2 linked regions of the Homo sapiens genome follow. The protein of the gene in region 1 interacts with the protein of each later gene in a pairwise test. Each region holds a gene or a part of one and is shown on either strand. Other genes may lie near its edges.

The links.
Region 2: the proteins of JADE3 (region 1) and SASH1 interact in a two-hybrid assay, tested with the Homo sapiens proteins (one large-scale study listed by BioGRID).

The regions. Positions count from the first base shown.
Region 1 is NC_000023.11:47,058,475-47,061,960, forward strand, and holds the end of JADE3 (protein Jade-3), read left to right. Parts: coding exon 1-603; 3' UTR 604-2,768; downstream 2,769-3,486. UniProt on the Homo sapiens protein: Scaffold subunit of some HBO1 complexes, which have a histone H4 acetyltransferase activity.
Region 2 is NC_000006.12:148,545,110-148,548,934, reverse strand, and holds part of SASH1 (SAM and SH3 domain-containing protein 1), read right to left. Parts: intron 2,921-3,825; coding exon 2,789-2,920; intron 641-2,788; coding exon 377-640; 3' UTR 1-376. UniProt on the Homo sapiens protein: Is a positive regulator of NF-kappa-B signaling downstream of TLR4 activation. It acts as a scaffold molecule to assemble a molecular complex that includes TRAF6, MAP3K7, CHUK and IKBKB, thereby facilitating NF-kappa-B signaling activation.

The sequences.
Region 1 (3,486 bases):
AGAACCCCGTCCTCGGAGTGCTATCATGGGCAGTCACTGGGAAAGCCTCTGGTCCTTCAGGCTGCCCTCCATGGACAGTCTTCCATTGGGAATGGGAAAAGTCAGCCTAACTCCAAGTTTGCCAAATCCAATGGCCTGGAGGGCAGCTGGTCTGGGAATGTCACCCAAAAAGACAGCTCGAGTGAGATGTTCTGTGACCAGGAGCCTGTGTTCAGCCCCCACTTGGTCAGTCAGGGCAGCTTTAGAAAATCCACTGTAGAACACTTTAGTAGGTCCTTTAAAGAGACCACCAATAGGTGGGTGAAGAACACAGAGGACCTCCAGTGCTATGTGAAGCCAACCAAGAATATGAGCCCCAAGGAGCAGTTCTGGGGTAGACAGGTTCTCAGGCGGTCTGCAGGGAGAGCTCCATATCAGGAAAATGATGGCTATTGCCCAGATTTGGAGCTGAGTGATTCAGAGGCAGAAAGTGATGGGAATAAAGAAAAAGTCAGGGTAAGGAAAGATAGCTCAGACAGGGAAAATCCTCCCCATGACTCTAGACGGGATTGCCATGGTAAAAGCAAGACACATCCCCTTTCCCACAGTTCAATGCAAAGGTGATTAGAAACTTCCAAGGATGACCCAACCTTTGCCTTTGCCCCATATATTGGGGAAAACCCATACACCAAAAGGATTTTAGCATATGTTAAGAGGAATTGCAGTGAAAAGGATAACATTTTTCCATAGTAAATTGTCTTGCAGTTTTTGAAAATGTTTCAAGTCTAGTTTTTACAAGCACATTACAGTAATTGCAGGTTGTCCAGAGGTTGGTTTGTCAGAGGCTATTGGGAACAGCTGGGCCCAGGGTATTTGCTCAGTAAATATTTTGGGGCAGCTTTCCGGTTATATAACACATTGACAAGTATATGTATTAAGAGTCCTTGCATTGTTAACTGATTTGCAAGAGACCATGATTATCAGACACTAAAACTACTTATCTTTTGAAGCTACAGCATGTGACTCCCCAGAGCTCCTGTCTGTAGGAAGTTTCTAATTCCACTGGTATCTATAAACCCTTTTCAGGGGAGAGACCAGGAGACCACCATCTTAGATACTGTCAAACTCACTACTGTCTTCCTTTGTTCTGCACAAGGTTGAGTTTCTTTCACAGTATCTTAACTTACTGAGTCAATACTCCTCATGCTTATCAGTGTCCAGTGCCTGTTCCTAAACTTGCTTGTTGGGGACACACTCATAACTATTTCACCTGACTGACAAGCATAAAAGGCTAACTTGTGGATAGTGTTTACAAAAGTACAAAAGTACTACTTCCAAGGAAAATGCTCTGATTCTCTGTTTAGGCATTTGTGAAGGATTCCAGAGCCTTTCCCAAAGTGAGACCATTTCTGGGGTATTTGTACCAGGTCAGGGTTTTTGTGTTGTTTTCAAATAAGTTTGACTAAAATAAGTTTGGCTGACAGTTTTTGTATACCTGCTTTAATGTTTATAAAATTTTTATTGAGGTATAATTAAAATATAGTAAAATGCACAGAGGTTAAGTATTCTTACCTGCTTTAATTTTGAAACAGATTTTTATTGTCAAACAGAATTTGAAAGCATGTGTTTAACACATGGATATAATTTAGCTTTGTGTCACCTTTGAATCTGAGGCAGTTTCCCAAACAAAAAGGCTGGAGCCATTTTTCAGAAGTTGCTTATACCCTGTTCCCAAACTATCAGCCTTGATTAATTTCTAGTAGGAAGAGAATAATTACATTTGCGGGGGGGGGGGTGGATAAAAACATGTCTGCTTCTCATTTAAATAAGAGAGAAATGATGCCGTTTTTTAAATGTGAAGCAGACTATAATTCTCAGCTCTCTTTTCTTCTTAGCCTTAAATTAATATTCTCTTTCTTCTAGTTTTGGAAAGTGTAGTGGGAATATTCAGACAAAAGAGGCCATTTTCCATTTTTAAAGCTTCTTACTGGTGAAACAGCCCAGTTGTAGTAGGTGCCAGTCAGTCAAGGCAGGGGCCCTCTCTCCGTCAATATGGAAAACTCAGCAGTTTTCCTCTCCCCCAGTTGTGTTCTTGTAACGTTGTTAATGGGTTCCTTTGCTTTTTGCTTTCTCCTTTTCTGAAAATGTATGTGTTTTGCCTCTCTTTTGGCTACATCTTCAAAATATTTCTTTTGTGCCTATGTACATGTGTAAACATGCCATAGCATGTGTGGTAGGTGTCCTGTATTTTGTTTGGGAAAAAAACTATCAAAATGAGGAAGAGAATTTCCCCTATTTATGCACTAGGTTTCTGTGCTTTTTCTTTGAGTTCTCTGGAGTAGATATTAATTTGATACCTTCATGGTAATGAAATTATGATGGAGCTGTGTTATAAATTCCTTATGTCAGAGGCCAGTGCGGTAGCCTTTGTCCCTTCATGCCTTTCAATTCTGAGTGGGAGGAAAAGCAAACATCAAAACAGTGCTTCAGCCAAATTCCATATGTAATGCCATTGGGAGAGTATTGACTAAAATATCATTCGTCAGGGAAATATAGTTGTAATATTTTTACAGGATATTCCTAGGTAAATGAAGGAGCCTTCAGTTGTAAATTTCAATTACCCCAAAATGTATTTGCTACATTTTGTTGTTTGAAGTATTACCTCTTAACCTTCTTTGTTAATTTTTTTCATTTTGTCTTATATAGTCCAGTTTTCCAAGATAAGCTCAGTCCTTTTTCAAATGTCCCCTTTTTACCAATACTTTTTCATTAAATTATGAAAACTGCTACCTACTGTCAGTGTGTTTTTTATTTTGGCATATTGGTTACACATGTTCCTTTTATATTTAAAAAATTATATTCACTGAACAAAACAGATAGTGTGGGGAGAGGGAGGAGGAAGAGGAGGAATTGAATGTTTAGAAGCACACATTCAACATTCGAGTCAATACCGGGGACCCAGGAGAACTCTGGATACTTGAACTTTACCCAGAAATCATGATTTTATCAGACTGTTAAGATAAAGGCCTTAGGATCATCATAAAACATCACCAGAGAGATAGATCCTATCTAAAGTGACAAGATTGAAAAGGCTTCAGTCAGGCATCTCTATTTGGAGTCTTGTGAGTATGTTGATGTCATGGGGTTATGTGGTGTCAAGGGGGGCTTTTAGGCATTATAAACATTTTCATGATTGAAAAATGTACTTGCCAAAGGTCATTGGGTAAATCAGTAGTGAAGATAGGTAAAAGGTGAAGTTGGTTCTCTCTCTCTCTCTCTCTCTTTCTCTCTCTCTCTGCTAGAGAACTGAAACTACAGGTATACCCTGTTATAGCCAACAAAAGCTATTGAGTTTATACTAATGTGTACATTTCCAATGGGAGATGAATCTTTGTCCTTGTGTTGAAGCAACTTTAAATTCAGAGGATAAGCCAAAGAATGCACAATCCTGGGTTATTTTCCTTCTAGGACTTTAAAATCCTCAGTATGCTTGCTGACCTTTCAGAA
Region 2 (3,825 bases), on another chromosome or scaffold:
AAGAGCAAGGGCACTATCAGAAATGGAACAGGCTGCCCCCTACTCCTCCCAGCCTCTACCAGTACACAGAGACAGACTGGAGATAGAGCATTCGCAGCCAGTTGGCATCTTGGTTCTTTTGTCTTCTGAAAATAAAAATAAGTGCTTGTCTTGTCTTTGGGGGTCAAAGAGAACCGCACTAATTTATTTCCTCGAGGGGGCTTTTCTGGAGGAGAGGATCCTCAGTCCTGTGCCAAGGTTTCACGCTGTTTGGCCACACGCCAGGCCTTTCTTCTGGATCTGGTCTGCACGTCCAGAGATGATGGAGGAATTGCATCAGCATCATATGCACAGTGAAAGGGTGGCTCTTGTCCAGAGAGGCCCATTCCGGGCCTGGCTACATGGCCTCAGGGCCTGGCGGCAGTTTGAAGAGTCTGGCTGCAGATAGGAGCTTTCTTATGTGTCTCTCCTCTGTGATGCCGGCCTCCTGAAGGCAAGTGTGAGACAGAGAAGGCACTTGGCTCAGTGTGCTGAAGCCCGCGGTGGAGAGGGTGCCGGCGTACATGGGCAGACCGATGGAAATGAGCCAATCTGACACAGACGAAATGCACCCAGGAGAGACGGGCTTTCGGCAGATTTCCGTGAGTCCACCACTTGGAATCTGGATAAATTAAGAAAGAATATGATAGAAACGCTCCATGTGTCATCGAGGACTACTTCGCGTATGTCTAAAAGGAACAGCACTGAAATACTGCATTGCTAGACTATTATCAGAAAGCGACAATGCAATGAGTGTCAGAGATCAAGACTAGCAGGAAAAATTCTTCTCTAAGATGAAACAAATCTTTAAGGAAGAGTTCCACAAGGTTCTCGAAGGTGTTGGAATGAGGTCAAATCCCATTTATGTGTCCGAGTCTTCAAACTATAAGCATTTACATATTCTGCTATTTTGTTTCACTGTGGATATGCTCTTGACAAAGAGCCCTAAGGTAGTCTGAAGGGACAAATCTGGGTGATCGTGTGAAATGTAGCATTCAGTGGGTAGGGTTTTTATAAAGGAGACTTTCCACTGTATTTTGAATCTATGTTAACAACCAGAAAATTACATGTTTAGTCAATACAAGTTATGAAGAATTTAAAATACAATAATATCAAGGGTTGGCTGGAACAGGGAAGTGGACATTTAACCTTGACTACTGGGTATATAAAGGGCCTGCACCTTTCAGAAAGGTGATTTGCTAACGAGTATGAAAATCTTTGGGATTTTATACAATTTTGATGAAGCAAACCATCTTCCAGGAATATCTACTCAGAAATTAACCTTTAAAGTCTACAAAGATTTATTAACAAGGATGTTCTTCATTACATTATTTAAAATAAAAGGTTAGAAAAATCTAAATGTTTTAACTATGAGACTCACTACTAGAGTACACTGACCTACTAGAATACTTTGAAATACAATAGCCACCCCCCTGCTTATCCATGGTTTTGCTTTCTACAGCCTGAAAATATTAAATGGGAATTTCCAGAAATAAACAATTCATAAGTCTTATATTGCATGCCATTCTGAGTAGTCTGAAGAAATCTCACACCACCCAGCTCTGTCCCACCTGACAATCATCCCTTTGTCTAACAAATCCACGCTGCCTACACCACCAGCCCCGCAGTCACTTAGTAGCCCGTAGTCATCAGATCAACTGTTGCGGTAATGCAGTACTTGCATTCAAGTCACTCTTATTTGACCTTACAATGGCCCCCAAGTGCAAGAGTAACGATGCTGGCCATTCGCACGTGGCAAAGAGAAGCCCTTAAGTGCTTCCTTTAAGTAAAAAGGTGAGAGTTCTTGACTTAATAAGAAAAGAAAAAAAATTGTATGCTGAGGTTCCTAAGACCTACAGTGAAAACGAATCTTCTATCCATGAAATTGTGAAGGAAAAAGAAATTTGTGTATAATATATACAGGGTTTGGTACTCAGCAAGCTTTCAAGAGATCCACTTGGAGGTCTTGGACCATAATCCCTCATGGATAGGGGGAGACTACTGTATTGATGATATCAATTTTTTTTTTTTTAAGTAACAGGGAAACAGATTCATGATCTGATAATAGCCAACAATCAGGTTTCGGTACTATACATTTACGCATACATTACGCATGTGCAGAGAAATGACTAGACAGAGTTTTAATGGACAAGTAAAAATTGTGTGTATTTATGGTGTAAAACGTGGTGTGTTGATAAATGTACACATTGTGGAATGGCTAAATCAAGCTATTTGACATATGCATTACCTCATATACTATATTTTGTGGTGAGAACACTTAAGATCTGCTGTCCTAGCAATTTTCAAGTATACATTGTTATTAACTGTAGTCACCATGTTGAACAATAGATCTTTGGAAGTTATGCTTCTAACTGAAACTGTGTCATTCAGACGGATTTTATTTTATTTCTTAAGAGATGGGGTCTCACTATGTTGCCCAGGCCGGCATCAAAATTCTGGGCTCAAGCAATCCTCCTGCTTCTGCCTCCCAAGTAACTAGGATTACAGGTGTGCACTATCACGCCCAGCACTAGACGGATCTTTAAAAAGTTTTTCACAGTGTTGGGATTACGGATAATTTTCATTTTTTTTTTCTTTCTGAAAGTGTATTTTTAAACATTTCTAGGCTGACCACATATTACTTTCTCCCCAGCTGTCTCCTTTCCATAGCTACGCAAGCCCTTGCCTACTTGGCAGTTGTTAGTATGGTCATCACTAAGCGTGATCACTAAATGTGCCTCAGGAAGCTGGAGAACTGTGGGCTGCTCACCGCCATGCGGTGCTGCTTCCGAAGCTGCTTCACCCGGATCTGGTCCATGTTGGCGGCGACGTCCCGCTCGGGCTGATCCAAGTCCTCTGCGTATCTCTGCACCAGGGCTTCAGGAATCCCACAGCGGCCATGCTGCCAGGGAGAACAGGAATATGACATCAAGAGTCATAAGGATTTTGTTTTTCTTTCCCTAAGATACACCACATATAACGTAGGGTCTCACTGTCACTTAGACTGGAGTGCAGTGGTGTGATCATGGCTCACTGCAGCCTCAAACTCCTGGGCTCAAGCGATCTTCTCGCCTTGGCCTCCCAAAGTGTTGGGATTCCAGGCGTAAGCCACCACACCCAACCCAAAAGTTTGAATTTGAAATGAATATATTTTCTTTATTGGTCAGGATGAATGCTTTAGAGGGAATACTTTTACATCTTTATCTTAAAGTACTGATGAGCTCTAGGAAAATGTTCTGAAGCATAGTTAAGGCAGAACACAATTATTCCACATTTTTCAGGACAATGCCTTCGCCTCAATCAGATCATTTTGCAAAATACAACTCCTCTAATGTTACTGAAGAGAGTCTTCTAAACTGCAGGAGAGAAGGGCTAACTTCTGCTTTACAGATATTCAACTGTTTGCACTTTATCTGCTACAAGTGATACCACCAGCTCACTAGGCCAGCATTTACTGTATGGTCTTTCTCACTACCTTTCATTTAAAGACATTCACTCAGGAAATATCAAGGAGGGTCAGAGAGGTGGAGGAGGATCTGATTCTAAGGCATTCATTGTCATGAGAATTTTATAATAAAGGACTCTCAGGAATGCATCCTAATAGGACCTGTATTTCCAGGAGTAAAGTACTGCTGTATCTGTTAGCATTGCTTTGTCTTTGGAGTCACTTGGTATTGGTAGATCTCATTTTTTTTGAATGAGAAATAATTTTTCATTATACAGCTAAATGTTTTTGGTACAATGGGGGATTTTATATTATCTTTTTCCCATTACCCATACAGATAACTGTATAATACAATTATCACA